Linked DNA regions of Homo sapiens. The protein of the gene in region 2 interacts with the protein of the main gene of each other region in a biochemical or structural test. Each region holds a gene or a part of one and is shown on either strand. Other genes may lie near its edges.

What was found.
Region 1: the proteins of DAPK1 (region 2) and DUS1L form a complex in vitro, tested with the Homo sapiens proteins (one large-scale study listed by BioGRID and IntAct).
Region 3: the proteins of DAPK1 (region 2) and LIMA1 form a complex in vitro, tested with the Homo sapiens proteins (one large-scale study listed by BioGRID and IntAct).
Region 4: the proteins of DAPK1 (region 2) and PRKAG2 form a complex in vitro, tested with the Homo sapiens proteins (one large-scale study listed by BioGRID and IntAct).

What each region holds. Positions count from the first base shown.
Region 1 is NC_000017.11:82,062,215-82,067,378, forward strand, and holds the start of DUS1L (tRNA-dihydrouridine(16/17) synthase [NAD(P)(+)]-like), read right to left. Parts: upstream 3,591-5,164; 5' UTR 3,399-3,590; intron 3,301-3,398; exon of another isoform or gene 3,140-3,300; intron 2,856-3,139; 5' UTR 2,846-2,855; coding exon 2,609-2,845; intron 2,021-2,608; coding exon 1,912-2,020; intron 1,305-1,911; coding exon 1,254-1,304; intron 760-1,253; coding exon 647-759; intron 1-646.
Region 2 is NC_000009.12:87,633,172-87,637,741, reverse strand, and holds part of DAPK1 (death-associated protein kinase 1), read right to left. Parts: intron 1-4,570. UniProt on the Homo sapiens protein: Calcium/calmodulin-dependent serine/threonine kinase involved in multiple cellular signaling pathways that trigger cell survival, apoptosis, and autophagy.
Region 3 is NC_000012.12:50,202,731-50,207,300, reverse strand, and holds part of LIMA1 (LIM domain and actin-binding protein 1), read left to right. Parts: intron 1-1,232; coding exon 1,233-1,317; intron 1,318-2,600; coding exon 2,601-2,749; intron 2,750-4,570. UniProt on the Homo sapiens protein: Actin-binding protein involved in actin cytoskeleton regulation and dynamics. Increases the number and size of actin stress fibers and inhibits membrane ruffling. Inhibits actin filament depolymerization.
Region 4 is NC_000007.14:151,561,826-151,566,395, forward strand, and holds part of PRKAG2 (5'-AMP-activated protein kinase subunit gamma-2), read right to left. Parts: intron 4,061-4,570; coding exon 3,895-4,060; intron 3,559-3,894; coding exon 3,521-3,558; intron 2,400-3,520; coding exon 2,253-2,399; intron 1-2,252. UniProt on the Homo sapiens protein: AMP/ATP-binding subunit of AMP-activated protein kinase (AMPK), an energy sensor protein kinase that plays a key role in regulating cellular energy metabolism.

The DNA of each region.
Region 1 (5,164 bases), on a different chromosome or scaffold from region 2:
GGGAACCTCAGGCTGCATGTGCTGCCCAGGCCCATGCAAGAGCCAGGCCGGGAAGTGGCAGCATCCCCACTGCCCAAGGCCAAAGGTGTGGGAGGGACTGACTCCAGGCTAGTGGGGCACTGGGGGGGAAAGTGGGTCCTGGGCCTGGCAGCCCCTGTGCAAGCTCATCCCCGGGTCACCAAGGTTGCTGTCCACCTTCAGAAGGTGAGTGTCTTGAGGGGCACCCCCGGAGACAGCAGCCCATCCAGGCCCGCGCCAGGCCAGGCTCAGTGTGCGGGGAACACGGGCAGGGGAGCAGCTCTGCTGACAGCCTGGTGGCCCCTTCCTCACCCTCTAGGGAGACTGGATGCTGAGTATCCCCAAAGGAGGCCCTGCCGGCCTCTGTGACACTAGGAATATGTCAGAGATGCCGACATTACTCTCTCCACAGGGACAAAACCCTGGAGCCAGGAAAGCAGTTTCTGTTGTAGAGGCCTGGGCTTGGGGTGGTGGCACTCAGAGCCAGTGGGGACAGGCCAGTCAGGAGGGCCACTGCCCCCATGAGGCCGACGGTGCACGGTGTCTGGACACAGGAAGAGCCTCAGCTATGTCCTCTGCGCAAAGGCCCAGCTGAGGCCCATGACACCCCCGCGAGCCCAGGGCTCACCTGGCAGCCGGCCTTCTCCAGCATCTGGGCGTACCTCACGGTCTTGTCAATCTCCGGGAAGACACGGATTTTGCACGTGACAGGAACAGAGAGTTTCTCGTGGGCCAGCAAAACTGGGGAGAAGAGAGGCAGCTTCTGAGGGGGCCATGGTGTTCCCACTTTAGCGGCCAAGCCCCAGAGCCCAGGGCCCTGCAGACAGCGGAGCCCAGGCAGCTTTGCCGGGAGGCTGGGAGGCAGCCCGGGCCACCATCTGGGTGTCTCCCTCAGGTTGCTGGGCAGGCTCCCTCCGCCATACCCCCGGCCCTCCGAAGTTCAAACAAGCAGGGCCAAGGCCGGCTCTGTCTCCCAGGACATCTGGGGCTGGGCCCGAGCAAGGACTCTGCCCTGGCACCTACTGTCTGGTTTTAAGGGGTGGGTGGTGCAGGACAGGCAACTTCACAGCCACCTCCTTCCAGCAGAGAGGCTGCTGTGGGCAGGAAGCCCCAGGGTGATGCTGAGAACTCCTGCCAACGCCTGTCCTCTCCTGAGCCCCAACCAAGTGGACAGTGCCCATGTGTCCCTCTTGAGGGTCTCTGGGGGTCCTTCACCATCCACCCAGCCAACTCACTCATTCTTTGGAGCAGGTCCCACTCGTCCTGCAGAAAGGCGCCATAGTGACCTGCAAGGAGCAAGCATGGCCTGGCTGGCACCTGTGTTAAGGCTGGTGGGGCCGAAGCCTTGCACCCCCTCTGCACCCTTTCCTGCATCCACGCAGGCCAGGAGCTGCCCTGTCAGGCGGGACACAGGTCCCCAGAACCAGCAGTGTCTCCAGTTGGGGCAGTGGGACAGTCAGAGCAGTGGTTTGTCGGCATCAGACTCAGGGGCTCTATTTGCCCAGCTGCCTAAGCTCAGAAGGTGCTGAATGGAACCCCCACCCTGCACGGTCTGGAACCAAGTAACACCTCCTCAGGGGCCCGGTGAGGTAGCAGGCTCAGCCCCACACACAGCAGTGCAAGGGGGTAATGGGGACCCTGTATCAGCAATCATGTTTATGCAGAGGGAGCTCCCTGAGGGAAGAGAGAGCCAGTAGGGCTCGGCCCCTAGCCCCCAAGGCCTGAGGACAGCCACCCTCCAGAGGCGGAGCACAGAGGACAGCTGGCTCCAGCCTGAGCCACTGTCACGACAGAGGCAGGGCCTGCCGTCCTCCAAGCTCACCACACCTGGGGCTGCACTGAGCTGGCTCTGGCCCCTGCCCCAGGTGCCCCCATGCTCCACATGGAGCTCACCTCTCTTGGCTATCATCTGTGGGCAGCCCAAGTTCAGGTCAATGGCGTCACAGTAATCCTGAGCCAGGAGAGCCGCCTGAACAAACACCTCCGGGTCATTGGCACAGAACTGGAGAAGATGCAGGAGTCAGCCACGGGCCCAGCCAGGCCCTAGTCCCTTGCTGCCCAGCCCTACGAGAGGTCCAGTGTGACCCCATGAGGGTGTGGGCCCAGGTTCACTGCAGGAGGGTGCTCTGTCCTGCGGAGGCTTACAATATGACAAAGCCGGGAGGAGTCCCCAAGCCACCCGGATTTACAGATTTTCTTCTGAACTGTGGCAGAAGCCACAATCACTGACTTCTGAAGAGCAGAGCCATCTCCACTGGTTCTGAAGAGGGAGTGTGAGTGTGAGAGGCAGCAATCCAGAGGCCCCAGCAGGGCTGCAAACCTCACAGCACCCAGGCTGCCTGAGCCACTCCTAGAGAATGGGGTTGGATTCTGGCAGGTGCACCTGGCAGCCCTGGCTCCACCACAGGAATCACTGCTGTGGCTACGTGGACTCTACATGCCTGGTGCCACCTTCTCCCTCTCCTCCTGGAATTGAGCTGTCTCTGGAAAGGCTGAAAGTGATGTCCCGCCACAGAGAGAAGGGTTTTTCCCCAGGCATTCCAGGACCGGGAACCCAACCGCGGCCGCGGCCACAGCCCCTCCTGCGCACCTGCACGATGAGGGGCCGGTCCTCGGGGCACACCTCGCAGTACAGGTTCTCCTTCCGGTAGTTGGCGTCGCGGACAAAGACCTGGGCATGCAGCATGGGCGTGTAGCAGAGCTGTGCCCCGTGGCGCCGGCTCAGCAGCCTCCAGGCCAGCTCGCTCTGGTCCACCATGGGGGCCACGACGTGGCGGGCCCCTCGCAGGGTGCGGCTCCAGAACTCGAAGCCCTGCAGCTTTGGCATCGTCTCCAGGCTGGGGGAAAGGCGCAGACCCGGGGTTCAGCCAGGCCCAACGAGGGGCTTAAGACTCAACTCAGAGGCAGCGGTCACCCTTCTAAGGCCGCTCCAGTACCACCGTTGGGTCACACGCGGGGGCACTAAAGGCGGGGGTCGGTGCAGGCTGGAGAACGGCCACTCCAGTGCCGCCACCTCCTAGCGGACCTCGGGGGAGCCGCTGGACCCCTGGGACTTGACCCTCCCTGGGGAGCGGGACTCGATGTCGGCCTGGTAGGGGACTGGCGTGAAGGGGGAAGAAACCTTGACGCCAGCGTCCCCGCGGGCCTGGCCCTGAGCAGGCCGCCCGGCGGTGAAGTTAGGACCCCCGGCCCCTTCCCGGGAGAATCGGCTCCGCGCCGGGCCAGGGGAAGGGCAGAGCTTCCTTCTCCGCACCCGGCCAGGCGGCCCGGCTGGCCCGAAACGCCACAGGGGCGCCCCTCGCGAGACTCCTCCGGAGCCACGCGGCGGGCAGCGTTTGCTGTGTGAAGTGACAGGAGCCCACACGCCTCCGCGTCCTCACCGCGCGAGGGCCCCGCCGTGTCCGCCGCGCGCCTTTGGCTCCGAGGGCGCCGGGTGCCGGTGTCCCGGGCCCGCCCCTCTCCGGCCTCGCCGCCGCCCGGGGCCCCTGCAGCTCCCGGGGCGCCGCGAACGCCCGCACCGCGCCGGGGCCGCCGCCGGGCCGCAGCCGGGCCCAAGGCTCCGCGCCGCCACCGGAAGGTGCCCGGTCCTGCGCGGTCCGGGCGGCCCACGGTGCGGCGGGAAACGCGTTCCCCGGAAACCGCGCCCGGCTCCGAGGGGACCGGCGACGAGAGGTCGCGGCGCGGGGTCGGAGGTCAGAGGCTGAGGTCACCACCGTACCCGTCAGGCCGTGGCTAGAGAGGGGTCGGGGCTCGCCGGGACTCACCGACAGCTCGCTGGAAACGAGGCATGTGGAAATTGGGCCTCGCTGAGGCGCACATAAGGCCCGGGCCGCGGGTAGACCGTGGGCGCTGAGGCCCTGCGCTGCCCAGCCCCCAAGTTCGCATTGGGGGCTTCATCCCGTTATATCCTAAAGCGGCCCCAGAGCCCTGCCTCGAACCCACTCACCTGCCGCCTCTGAAAGCCACTCACTTTCCGCCGCTGCGTTGCGGAAAATCACCCTCCAGGGACCTTCCTTGCCCGCCCTGGGTTTCCGCAGCCGCCAGCCTTCGATCGACTTTCCTACCCGCCGTGGACCCTCCTTGGGTTATTTCGAGCTGTGGGGACCCACTGGGAACCCCAGAGTGGATGTGAAGGTTATTTTAAACTGAAGGCATTTGAGACCCAACAGATGTAAAAAGCAGCTTTGTCAGAGCTTTCCATATCTGAGAGCGAAGCCCGAAGTTGAACCAGGACATTCAGTACCTAAAACATGTGAAATCTCTTGGGCCCCCGGAATCACTAAGGAAAACTCAGGCTGGAAGCTGCTCAGGGCAAACCTGCCTCCCGCTCTATTCAGAGTCACCCTCTGCTCGCTGAGATAGATGGATATCTGACTGACTCCTTTGAAAAGGCTCATCAGAAGGCTGGGCGCGGTGGCGCACATTGAGACCAGGAGTTCGAGACCAGCCTGGCCAACACGGTGAAACCCTGTCTCTACTGAAAATACAAAATTAGCCAGGTGTGGTGGTGCGCCCCTGTAGTCCCAGCTACTCGGGAGGCTGAGGCAGGAGAATCGCTTGAACCTGGGAGGCGGAGGTTGCAGTGAGCCGAGATCAAGCCATTGTACTCCAGCCTGGCGACAGAGCAAGACTGATCAAAAAGGAAAAGAAAAAAAAAAAAGGCTAATCAGAAACTCAAAACAATGTAACCGTTTGTGTATCACCTATCTGTGACCAGGAAGCTCCCTCCCCGATGGCTTTTGCTTTAAATTGTCCCGCCTTTCCAGACTGAACCAATTTTTTTTTTTGAGACGGAGTCGCTTTCTGACCCAGGCTGGAGTGCGGTGGCGTGATCTCGGCTCACTGCAACCTCCATCTCCCAGGTTCAAGCGATTCTCCTCCCTCAGCTTCCCAAATAACTGGGATTACAGGCACCCACCAACACACCCAGCTAATTTTAGTATTTTTAGTAGAGATGGGGGTTTCACCATGTTGGCCAGGCTGGTCTCGAACTCCTGACATCAGGTGATCCGCTGGCCTCCCAAAGTGCTGGGATTACAGGCGTGAGCCACCGCAGCTAGCCGCTATGTTCATCTTACATATATTGATTGATGTCTCATGTCTCCCTAAAATGTATAAAACCAAGCTGTGCCCCAACCACCTCAGG
Region 2 (4,570 bases):
GGAACCATTTTCCTAAGGTTCCGTGTTCACAAATGAGAGGAGGGGCAGAGATGAAATGCTGTGAAGAAAATATCAGTGTATCTTGAAAACATTTTAATTAAACATACTTAGAGGTGATGTCTTAACTCTAATGACGAGAAAAAAATCTGCAAGCCAGCTTTGTACAGAATTTATAGTGTATATCTTCTTATTTCAATTAGAGAGTACCTGAAAAGTTCATAACTTGCATGTTTAATTAATTCTTTAAAACTCAAATTCACAATATATGGTCTGATAAGGGTTTTTTCCTCTCTTGTCTAGTATTGGTTTGTATGTAAATACTAACACATTTATAAAAATCACATTTAGTAGCCTGGGCGCAATGGCTCACACCTGTAATCCCAGCACTTTGGGAGGCTGAGGCGGGCGGATCACAAGGTCAAGAGATCGAGACCATCCTGGCCAACATGGAGAAACACCGTCTCTACTAAAAATACAAAAAACAACTGGGCATGGTGACGTGTGCCTGTAGTCTCAGCTACTCGGGAGACTGAGGCAGGAGAATCACTTGAACCTGGGAGACGGAGGTGGCAGTGAGCCAAGATTGTGCCACTGCCCTTCAGCCTGGTGACAGAGCGAGACTGTCTCAAAAAAACAAAAAAAAAGAATACATTTACAAAAAAAGCAAAATGTATGTTGTTGGTTGCGGATTTTTTTAGTTTATTTCTCTGTCCAGACTGTAAGTGGGTGGAGGGGAGTGGTCAGAACCTCCCACCCCAGCTATTGGCTACTGCTGTATGCCCCACTCCCCGCCAGAGCCAGGCACACAGCATGCATTCAAAACTTTATCAGGTGGATGGACGAACAAGCTCCCCTAAAAACTCCACGATAGCGATGAATGGCAAATAACAGGGAAGTTTTAATAAGAGTTTTTATAAGTTAATCTTTATCAAGTTTAACCATATATTCACAACATAATAATTAAGTGCAATTATGCACAAACTGCTGTATTCATTATCTCTCTTAGGGCAAGAGCGCTCCCCAAACATTATACCTTCCACATCTACATCCATTCAGAGTAAGAAAATTGGTGCTCATAAGATCAGATAAGAATGACAAAAAAGCTGTTTTCTTAAAAGTTTCAGATCCCACATGCCTTCACCCTCCAGGTCAGTGTTTTCCTTAGCACGGTCTAGAGTCCATGGGTATCAGAATTATTTGAGGATGCTTTAAAAATGAAGATTCTGAGCCTCACTTTCAATCTGCTGTGTGAGGGCTTCCAAGAATGGTGACCAGAAAACTCAGCATCTTTAACAAGCACCTGAAAAACTGAGACCATTTTCCCACGTCTTAATTCCACGCTCCTGCTGCAGGGCCTCCCACTGGTTTACGGGGATGGTGGAGTGACTCTCCTATCCCCAGGGGCCTGGCAGAGGTAGCCACACCCTCCTGTGAGCAGTCCACAGGCCTCCCCTATCCTCCAGGGGACACAGCAGGGCCTGGGCCCAGCCAGGACATCCAGGAGTCCAAGCGAAAGGTGTCCTACATGGACCCTGCCTCAGCAGTGGCCTTGCTCTCCTCCTGACCCTTCCCTGCACTCCCCACCCTGCTCTTGGGAGATGCAGTCTGCCCCCACCCTCTCCCCTCCCAGGTGTCCTTGGCCTCACAGCCCCCACACTGTCTGCCCACGGAACAAGGCAAGGCCTCCCGCTTCTCACTTTTGCATCTTATTCTTAAAACAAACAACGGGGAGAGAAAATCCTTCAACTATAGGGGGGAAAAAGTGGGAGATTGTGAACCAACCTCACCCAAAGAAAGCTCTCCCATCACACCTGGGTCTCCAGCCCTGGCTTCTGTGCTCTCTGGGGCGCCCCGCACCACTGGGCTGACTCAGGCACCGTGGCCACGTGATGTGGAGAAGTCAAGTGCCTGCATCCAGTCCAAGTCTTAACTTCTGCCACGCGCTCACCCTGAAACCCGGAAGGTTACCCCTTCTCTTGAGCCTCATTTCCCCAAAGAGGAGTCATAAGACCTCTTCCCTTGAAGGTTATGAGGATGAAAGGTAATAGACATGTGTAACTGGCAAGGCTGGCACGTGGGTAAGGTCCAGCTTGCGGGAACGAGTGTTGTTATAAAGAAGGCCACTGTCACCCCTGTAGCATACCACTGCTTCCTACAGGATCCAATATGAAAGCCCCTTCCTGCCCGCTCCTCCTCCTAAAACTGGTCCATTGGTTGAGCCTAACCACTGTGCTTCCCAGGAAGAAGGTGAGGGGAAGGAACTGAAACTTCTGCTGTGAATGTGGTGCCCAGCCGCCGGCTTTCTCTCCGTGGCCCTCTTCAGGGCCTCCCGAGCCCACCTCACTCGCATTCTGCTTGTGTTGTCTTAGAGTACAGAGATGCATTTTTCAGACAATGAGAAACGTCAGGAGTTTGGCTGCCTGGTTGGGGTGAATCTTCCAGCACCCACACAGCTGGCGCAGTCTGCTGGCCCTGAGTCCTTTCCAGGGACTCCACTGTCCAGCCTTCTGGCAACCCCATGCTGCCCTGGCCTCAGGCTTTGCCCGCTCTTCTCTGGCCAGCTTTCTCTCCCTCCCTGCCAACCTAAGCTTTCTTCAGACCCAGGATCTCCTTCTCCTGCCAGCTCCGTCTTCTGTGAGGCAGGATGGCAAAAACGAGGGGACCATGGTTCAAATCCTGCCAGGGCCTCCAACCTTGCTGAGCCTCTGACTCCCCTTCTATAAAATAAAGGGTAACATCATAGCTTACGGAGTCATCCTGAGGTTCCAGGACATGTAGCGACCCTTAGTGCTCAATAAATGCTGCTGTCTTTCTTCCCATGTGGCTTCAAACCAGAAGTCCTCCCATGGCAGCAGGGGTGTGCAGCAGGTTCTTTGGCGTTGGGGTGGGTAGAGCCCATTCCCGAGGTGTCACATTCCCACCATGGCCATCTCAAACTCCCTCCCCACGTGATGTCAGGGACCGTGGGTGGAGTTGGGGAGGGACAGGCACTGCAGCGGTGACCTGGGTGAGCTGGGATTGACACGGCACTGCCGAGCAGCCACCTGGCCTGCCATGGTGTTCCACATTTTTCCGAAGACGGTCTGACAGCATCTCATCCTCATGCTCTTCTGCACCGTGATTGTGCCATCCTCCTTCAGGCAGTGGGCGGCATCTGTGGCTCCATCTCTTGAATCTGGGCAGGCCCCATGATCACTTTGACCAATGGCACAAGTGATTTTGCCAGCCCTGCTGTGGCTTTTCATGGACTGGGGGCCTCCAGGTCCCACCTCCTGAAGCCCTCAGGTAAGATGCAAGAAGTACGACGATGCCAAACCACTGTGCCACGTGGAGAAACCCAGGAAGAAGAGATGTCCTTGGAGAACAAGGCCAAGGAGCCTCGAGCAAGGAAGGCACCTTAGAAGGGGACCCTCCAGCGCAGCCGAGGCCACAGAGGTCAGAGACTGTCCATTCAGCAACTGATCAATGAGGGAACATAACAGGGCCTGCCAAACTTCCATCAAGGGCAGATCCTAAATATTTTAGGCTTTGCCAGCCTTGCAGTCTGTCCCAACTACTCAGCTCTGCTAATGTATCATGAAAGCAGCCACAGATGACATGTACATGATGGGTGTGGCTGTGTTCCAATAAAACTTTAGTTAAAAAATAGGTGGCAACCTGGGTTTGGCCTATAGGCCATAACTTGCTGATCCCTGATATAAAGACTAGGTCATCACAGCCCAACCTGGGGCAACTCTCAAGGGTCATTCTGGCCCCAGAACTCCCTGTTGGCCAACTGGGGCTGCCACTAAACCCATTCCTGCCCCCTTCTCCTCTTCTCCAAATCTTGATCCTAAGTATAGTTCTTAATAAACACCATGCACACTCTTCTCCATCTCAGAGTCTGCTTCCCAGGGAACCCAAGCTACACCCCACTGGGTCTGGGATAGTTTTTTACATAGCCATAGAAGGCTAGAACATGCACCATCTTGAACTGGGCTTGTTTACTAGGCTCAGCCAATGGAAATTAGGCTTGCCCTTCTCTGGCCTGGTCATCTCGTGCCTTATTCAGTATTTGCGTCCTCAGAAACTCAACTCCACAGGAGTAAGGACAATGAATAACCCTGGAACCCCAAGAGTTAGGGACCAGGACTGCAAAGTGTAGTGACTGATCAAGACTGGGAGAAGGAGAGCACTAGTTGATCCTCTTAGTTTTCATCATTGACCCTTCTCACAAGTCCCTGTTCAAATCTCAACTTGTTATGAAGCAGTCCATGTCATGGCTGTCCAGGCAACCAAGTCCTTCAGTTAGACATTAGAAAGGTTAGGAGAGTCCCTATCCCACTAGGTCAGGACTTATCAACTGATGCCCAGAAGGCCCTATGTATTCACTCCATCCCCCCTCACCCATACGCACATATACTCATCTTCCTTCATATCTACATATGTACACATCCCCTTTCATCCCTACATACCCATCCCCCTTCATCCCTACATTTCCTTCATTTCTACATATGGACTCATATTCCTTCATCCCTACATATGTACTCAATCTCCTTCATCCCTACATATATACTGATCACCCTTCATC
Region 3 (4,570 bases), on a different chromosome or scaffold from region 2:
CTACCTTAGATATGACAGAGATAAATGTAGTAATTTAATGGAATCACAAAACACTTCATTAAAAAAAATCTTTGTTGGCCAGGCGCAGTGGCTCAAGCTTGTAATCACAGCACTTTGGGAGGCCGAGGTGGGCGGATCACCTGAGGTCAGGAGTTCGAGACCAGCCTGGCCAACATGGTGAAACCCTGTCTCTACTAAAAATATAAAAATTAGCTGAGCATGGTGGCAGGCGCCTGTAATCCCAGCTACTCAGGAGGCTGAGGCAGGAGAATCACTTGAACCTGGGAGGCGGAGGCTGCAGTGAGCCAAGATCACATCACTATACTCCAGCCTGGGTGACGGAGTGAGACTCTGTCTCAAAAAAAAAAAATCTGTGTCATCCACTTTTCTGTAAGTCCTGGAAATATATGGACAAAAAGGCATGGTCTCTGCCCTTAGTGAGCTTACAGTGCAGTAGAGGGACAGTCACCCAACAGTTTGACCAGGTACCTTGAGAACAGAGGAAAGATTACCTAAATTTATGTTGGCAAGGTACTCAGACTTCATAGTGCTTACACTGAGTCTTTGAAGGAACAGGCATTTGTAAGGCAACAGAAGGACAAAGGAGGCTGGCTCGGTAGGGACCAGATCTAGAACAGGACTTCTGTGACTTACTAAGCACTTCGAGTTTAATTTCAGGAATGAGTAGGAATGCTGAAAGAATTTTGAAAAGGAGGGTAAAATAGATTTATATTTTTGGATAATTACTTTGTATTATTGGGGATAATGGTAGCATCATAGAGACTGGATTGGAAGATAATGAAGAACCAGTTAAAGAGGTATAATGCAGTAGTCCAGGGGAAAGATGATGAAGACATGAACTAAGGCAGCAATAGCAGAAATAACATGAGACGGAGAAAGGAAACAGCAGATTCTGCATCAGCACTTGGCAGTTTAGAAGGACATGTCATTGTCATCTGGTATGTGAGGATTCCCCTCCAATAAGTGTTACAAAGCTTGCTGGTTAGGAAGCCATCTTTAGCAGAGAATATTACCTATATAGGGTTACTTATTTTTCCCTGGGCACCTGTGAATGTGTAGTGCTTGATATTTGTAATTTAAAAAAAATTCTATAGAATATAAAATATAAAATCAAATCTGGATTTTATTTATAAAGAAGGTTTGCAAGTTGAACCTTGCGTCAAGATTTCCCATTGTTTCTGCAAAACTTATCGTTGGGTTTCGTTTTCCAGATTCTCCGGGCCCAAAGCCGAAGTGCAAGTGGAAGGAAGATCTCTGAAAACAGCTATTCTCTAGATGACCTGGAAATAGGCCCAGGTAAGCAGAGAGTTCCATGTGTATGAGGTCCTTTAGGAAGTACTCACTAGTAGTAACATCTTTTGGACTCGAAGCCAATGCTTTTAAAGGAAGAGTGGCACAAATTAAAAGGAAGTCTGCCTATTAGATGCAAGCCATTCTCAAATCTCATTGCTCTCGATAAATAGCTTTTTTTTTTTTTTTTTTTTTGAGACGGAAGTTGACGTGCTCCCAAAGTGCTGGGATTACAGGCATGAGCCGTCATGCCCGGCTGCTTTTTTCATATTTTTAATCCACCCTTGTTAGTGGTAACCTATGGTAAGCAAAGGGTACTTTGAGGAGCTATAAGTAAAGTGCTACGATCAGTTTTGCCTCCAGTCATCTGGGGTTTGAGGGCTTCAGTAGATGGGCTGTGTCCCCTATCAGGTTTGGTTACCCTGTATTACCAGTGATAACATAACACTTTGAGAGTGGAATTATGTTTTAAAGGGGACATATACAGGCACTTCACAAAAGAAAAAATTAGTAAAAACAGGAAAACATCAGCTACCTAGTCATCAAAGAAATGTAAATTAAAAAGCATTGAGATCTCTTCTTTTTCATGTTAAATTAGCCAGAATTTTAAAATACGAGCCCAGGCATGGTGGCTCAGACCTATAATCTCAGCACTTAGGGAGGCTGAGACAGGAGGACCACTTAAATCCAGGAGTTTGAGACCAGCCTGGGCAACATAGACCTATCTCTACAGAAAAAAAAAAAAAAAGCCCAGCGTGGTGGTGCATCCTTGAAGTCACTGCTACTTGGGAAACTGAGGTGGTTGGATCATTTGAGCCCAAGACTTCAAAGCTGCAGTGAGCTATGATTGTACCACTGCCCCATACTCTAGCCTGGGTGACAGAGTGAGACCCTGTCTCAAAAAATAAAATATGCAATCCTCAATTATGGTAAGGTTCTTTTAATGCTAAGAAAGTGAGTGAATATTACTTTATAAATGACAATTATATTCCTGATTTTCTTCTTCGTGCTTTTAACAGAAGATATTGGCCATTAGATAAAAATAACCCAAAATTTAGAATTTTGAAATTATTTGAATCACTTTTATCTTCTAATAAAACATGTTGGCCAGTCACGGTGGTTTACACCTATAATTCCAGCGCTTTGGGAGGCTGAGGCGGGAGGATATCTTGAGCTCAGGAGTTCGAGGCTGTAGTGAGCTATGATCGTGCCACTGCACTTCAGCCTGGGTGATAGAGTGAGACCCCATCTCAGAAATAAAATAAAACATGTTATTTGGATGCTTCCAGGTCAGTTGTCATCTTCTACATTTGACTCGGAGAAAAATGAGAGTAGACGAAATCTGGAACTTCCACGCCTCTCAGAAACCTCTATAAAGGATCGAATGGCCAAGTACCAGGCAGCTGTGTCCAAACAAAGCAGCTCAACCAACTATACAGTATGTGTTCTGCATCATTCATTCATTCATTCATTCCATCATCCAGCAGATGGTCACTGAGTACTGGAATTAGGAAATGTCACCAGACCCTTGTATCTGAGCCCTGGTCCCCTAGCTGTTCTCTTTTCACATGAACCCTACCCTCGCTGGATTTGCAGTTCTTACCATGGTCTAATCCTGACTTTGCTTTCTTAGTCCTGGTTCCCACCCCACTCACTTTTTTTGTGATGTTACCAGTGAGTATCATTGAGAGTTTCCCTGGCTCTTCTACTTAATCTTTGTGTTGTTAAAGAAGTAGTATTTTATTAGTTTTAATATAACTCTTATTTTATCTTGGTTGTTGAGGGAAGAAGGAAGAAGACTGAAGAGCTTATTTTGGCTTTTGAGGGAAGAAAGAAGAAGACTGGAGAGAAATATCAGCTGTGTTCATTAACGAGGGTTTTTTTTGTGATTTTTTACTGAGATATAACTCACATAATATAAAATCACCATTTTAAAGTATACAATCTTGTGATACTTAGCATATTCACAAGGTTGTACAACCATTACCACTGTTTAATTCCAGAACCTTTCCATCACCCTGAAAAGAAACTTCATACCTGTGTAGTCACTCCCAACTTCCCCTGCTCTCATCCCCTGGCAACCACTTAGCTACTTCCTGTCTTTATGTATCTGCCTATTTTGGAAATTTCATATGAAGGAGTCATACAGTAGATCTTCTACTTAATCTTTAATCCTTACGATGTACTGTTTTCCTAAAGAAGTAGAATAGTAGATAAGGAAAAGGGAGAGATCACAAGAAGGTGACGTGCTCAGTAAGCATGAAAATTTTGATATTCAGCTGGGTGTGATGGCTCACACCTGTAATCCCAGCACTTTGGGAGGCCGAGGTGGGCAGATTGCCTGAGGTCAGGAGTTCAAGACCAGCTTGGCTAACGTGGTGAAACCCCATCTCTACTAAAAATACAAAAATTAGCCAGCATGGTGGCAGGCACCTGTAATCCCAGCTACTTGGGAGGCTGAGGCAGGAGAATCGCTGGAACCCAGGAGGCAGAGGTTGCAGTGAGGCAAGATTGCGCCACTACACTCCAGCCTGGGCGACACAGCAAGACTCCGTCTCCAGGAAAAAAAAAAAAGATTGGTATTCAAAATACAATGGAGGGTCCTTCCCCTTTACGTTGTCCTGTGCTTAACGGGTAAGCTGATGCTACAGAACTGCTAAATTGAAGTTACCTTATAGCCAGGCGCAGGAGCTCACACCGTAATCCCAACACTTTGGGAGCCTGAGGTGGGTGGGTCATTTGAAGTCAGGAGTTCAGAACCAGCCTGGCCAACATGGTGAAATCCCGTCTCTACTAAAAATACAAAAAAAAAATTAGCCAGGTGTAGTGGCACACACCTGTAATCCCAGCTACTAGGGAGGCTGAGGCAGGAGAATCACTTGAACCTAGGAGATGGAGGTTACAGTGAGCTGAGATCACACCACTGTACTCCAGCCTGGGTGACAGGGTGAGACTCCATCTCAAAAAAAAAAAAAAAAAAAGGAAGTTACCTTTCAAATGCCATTTATTCACATATATATGTATACACACACATAGATACAAATGTACACACACATATTTTTGTATCCTTCAAGCATTTGTTCTAAGATTTCAAATTACAAACCATTAATCTCTTGATGTCCTAATTGTCTAACAAAATCAAAAAGAACAATATTGAATTTTATTTGTTCTTAGGCAGATCGAAATTGGTGCATATTGGAAACCATAATGAGTATTCTGGGAGTTAAGCCTTCTCTTCCCCACATTATTAAGTATACAT
Region 4 (4,570 bases), on a different chromosome or scaffold from region 2:
AGGAGGCTGAGACAGGAGAATTGCTTGAACCTGGGAGGTGGAGGTTGCAGTGAGCTGAGATCGTGCCACTGCACTCCAGCCTGGGCGACAGAGCGAGACTGTGTCTTAAAAAAAAAAAAAAAAAGGCTTTGGAACCTGGAGCCGGGTGCGGTGGCTCACGCCTGTAATCCCAGCACTTTGGGAGGCTGAGGTGGGCGGATCACAAGATCAAGTGCTCGAGACCAGCCTGACCAACATGGTGAAACCCCGTCTCTACCAAAACCACAAAAATTAGCTGGGCGTGGTGGTGCATTCCTGTAATCCCAGCTACTCAGGAGGCTGAAGCAGGAGAATCGCTTGAACCTGGGAGGCGGAGGTTGTAGTGAGCTGAGATTGCGCCACTGCACTCCAGCCTGGGCGACAGAGTGAGACTTTGTCTCAAAAAAAAAAAAAAAAAAAAAAAAAAAAAGGCTTCAGAACCTGGGCCACGGCAGCTCTGTGCCGGCTGCGCCCTGGGAGACCCTCTCTGTATTGAACAGTGATACCCCTGATAGAAAACAGGGACATAGGAAGGAGATAGGAAGAGGGGGAAATCCAGTTTTTGTATTTTGTCTCAAATAATACTGTTTGGGTGATGTTTCTGTCATAGGTTGCTTTAGGTTAATAATAATAATAATAATAATGGCTTGGTCATCTTTCCCGTGGCAGTCAACATAAATTTCTTTTAAATGTTTCTCTAAAAAAGCTTTCAGGTTCATCAGTAATCCTGTGATATAACACAGCACAATTATTTGCTAACTATAATCACACATTAAAATGATAGTTCACATTTGTCTTCTACACTGAAGACATTTTATTGGTTACATTCAATAGTGGATATTAGCCGGGTGCGGTGGCTCATGCCTGTAATCCCAGCACTTTGGGAGGCCGAGGCGGGCAGATCACGAGGTCAGGAGATCGAGACCATCCTGGCTGACAAGGTGAAACCCCGTCTCTACTAAAAATACAAAAAATTAGGCGGGCGCCTGTAGTCCCAGCTACTCGGGAGGCTGAGGCAGGAGAATCGCTTGAACCTGGGAGGCGGAGCTTGCAGTGAGCCGAGATCACGCCACTGCACTCCAGCCTCGGCGACAGAGCAAGACTCCGTCTCAAAAAAAAAAAAAAAAAATAGTGGATATTAAACAGATATCTTTTGAACTCTGAAGGCTAAGGGAAACCATCTCATCCAGAGAATTAAGCAGTTCTCTCAGACTGAAATGACTCCCCACGTATTTTCTTGTCATCTGCTGCTGAGTCAAACTTATGTATGTCCTTTGTTGGAGGTACCTAAAAGTTAGTGTTCTATTTATGTCATATAAACAAATGGAATCATCACTGATACTGTACACCCTTCTCCTAGCTACATTAAAGCTAAAAACTGTTATTTTTTTGGTCCTTCTGTGAGGAGTCATCTTGTGAAGGAATTTTCTTTTTAGGCGGAGTCTTTTATTTAGGGTGTTACACAAAGTACATTTGAAAATCTTATAAGCAGTAAAGTCTAAGGAAATTGGACTGCTGAGGTGCAGGAAACTGGGAGTTACTAGATTATTTGCTATTTATCTAATTGAGGAAAGAGAGATACTGGTGGGAAGAGAGAAAAAAGTTTTACTGACTTATCATTCACTTTGTTAAAATATATATTACGCACTTTAAATTTTGAATTCATAAATATTCAAATGGAACTTAAAGCTTCTGGGATTTTTGTTTTCTCAAAACAAAATGTATCCATAGATACAGATACATCGATCTATTTAGAGACAGGGTCTTGCTCTGCTGTCGAGACTGGAGTGCAGTGGCACCGCCACAGCTCACTGAAATATCAAGCTCTTGGATTCAAGGGATCCTCCTTCCTCAGCTTCCCTATTAGCTATGACTACAGGTCCAAGCCACCATGCCCAGCTAATTTATTTTTATTTTTAGTAGAGACAAGGTCTTATTATGTCGTCCACACTGTCAAACATATATAGTTTAAACTATGAATGTATCTTACCAGTTTATTGGATTCACCTATGATACCAGGACTTTTCCATTCAATTCAATTCAACAAACTTTTAGAGATCGCCTATATGCCAAGTAGTGTGCCAGGTTCTGGGACAGGAGGGAATCCCATCGACTGAACCTGGAGGCTGCCTCGCTGGGCCCTTCCTGAGATTCAGGCTTCCAGAGGCATCATTCACTACTGGGGACTTGTTGCAGTGGACGTCGGGGGAGCAGGACTGGGAAAGCCGTCTCACCTCAGCTCTTACTATTCTGTCCACGATGGTCTCCAGTATTTCCAGCTTATTGCACTTCACAACACCTTCAAAATACTGTGAACGGTGCTGAAGGGCCTGGGTCACCGTGATATCTAGGTTATTGTATGTTTTCTCAGCAGCAAGATTCTGTAATGAAGCAAGAGAATAAATTATATCCTTTCATTTCAGTTCACTTCAATGACCAAAATTAGTGAGCTTAAGAGAGCCTGATTTCTAAAAACTTTAATGCTTATCTGAATTTAGTACCTGCATACATCAGACGTTCTTTCTGGCTTACGACATGCCATTGCTACTGTTATTTTGTCAACATATCAATCACAATTAAAGATAACCATGTTACAAGGTCTACCTTCCTTACGAAGCAACATTGTTAAACTTTGACAGTATATCCTGCCAAAGACTGCCCCCCAATTTTTACCCTCTAATGCTCTCTACCATGCATGGATGAAATCTCTGGCAAGGTGGGCTGACATCTGTAAAGGGTGGTGAGTGCCACAGGGCTAGAAATGCTGCAGCAACGGACCTTCTCAACAAGCTCCCTGGGGAACAAGGTTTCTGCTGGGAAGGCTTTGGGGGACCCATGGGGATCAAGCAACCAGAGGAAGAACAGGCTTGAGGAGCCCCATGGATCCAAATGGCTTCATGGGGCTCTCATTCATTTTAGCGGGTCCCACTCAACCAAAATGCCGATCAGCATATTTCTCGGTGACTGTTATGTTTAACATAATAGTGTGAAGCAAAGGGTTTGAGGCAGCTGCAGAAGAATGTTTAATGTGGGGTCAGTATTGTGGCAAAAAATGGCGTGCACATTTGGGGCTATAAAGTGTCAGTCCCCTTTTCTTCTTTAGAACAGTGGCTCCCAATCACTAAGCAATGGGATGCGCCCGACAAAGGAGCCATGAGTCCACGTGTGCACTGCGCACGCGTCTAGAGGCGAATAAATCAGGCCTCCTACGTGGAAACAAGAACATTTAAAATATATACACATGCTGTGGCAGTGCATAAAATATGCATGTATTGTAAAGATGAAAAATTATAAAATGCTACTAATATATAATTGGTTGCTAAACCAATGCAGATTAAAAGTACAATTACTATAGAAGGTCTATAAAATTCTGATAATATCCTCACACCCCAAAAGGTTAGAAATTATTAAATTAAGAAACAAGATAAAAACATAAAAACACATTACATGAATGTTTAAAATGCATTCTAGGTGACAGATTGAACAAAATTAAAATACTTACAATTACATCAAATTTGGAATAAATATCTACAACTTTTCCTAAAAATGAAAAATATATGTTAGAAAAATGTCTTAAGGGACAAAAAGAAATTCATTTAAAATCAGTTTTAATGACATAATTACTAAAAGTTAAACACTGATAAATAACCTTGTCTATTTTAAATGAAAACTTAGATATGAAATCATATTTTAATGGACATATGAAAATAAACCAATTAAACTTTTTTTACGATCCTGCGTGCCCCTTGGTGCTGAATTTATTCACCATACCCAAGTTTTCATTTTCCCCACGTATCTCCTGTGCCAGGTCATCTTACAATAATTGCACCCTGAGATAAACAATTATTTCTGCCTGTCAGCGCCAAACACACAAACCTGACTCATCCACAACAGGCAGAGCTGATATTCGTCTTTCCACAAATATGTTCAAGGCTTTGATGATGGGAGTGTCTGGATGTATGAAGGCAATGTTGTGGTACGTTCCTATTCCAAGCTCATCCAGGTTCTGCTTCATGAAGGCAGGCTTTGGCATATCAGACATCTAAACGGAAGATAAACGCAAACGTTCTAGACCCAGAACACACTCTTGTCATGTTCAAAGGTCCAGATTTGAATGAAAAAGTATGTCCAACAAATTAAAGTTAGTTTTTTCTAACAGTCTACCTGGATGCCTGAATTAACATGAGAAAATTACAAAGGACTGTATCTTTTGTTTGAACCAGTTTGTAGGTCTATGCTTCTATTTAACTATTCACAAACTATTGCAGAGCATTGATACTGTAATCTTTTTCCATCTCCTCTTCACTCACTAAGAACGCGTATAGAACCAGGGAAGAACAGGTCTATTTGGGATATTAAGACCTGTAAGCCACGAAGAATTGAATCCTTTATTCTTAATTGTTCATGTTAAATTCCTGGTCCTGCTGTCAGGATTAAGTAATATTTATTAAGAACCTATACATTTCCAAACCCAAAGCATTTGACGGCAGCTGTCTGAGCCACTGCTAAGCTAGTCCTCACGCCACCCGCCTCTACATCCTGAATTCTCCTT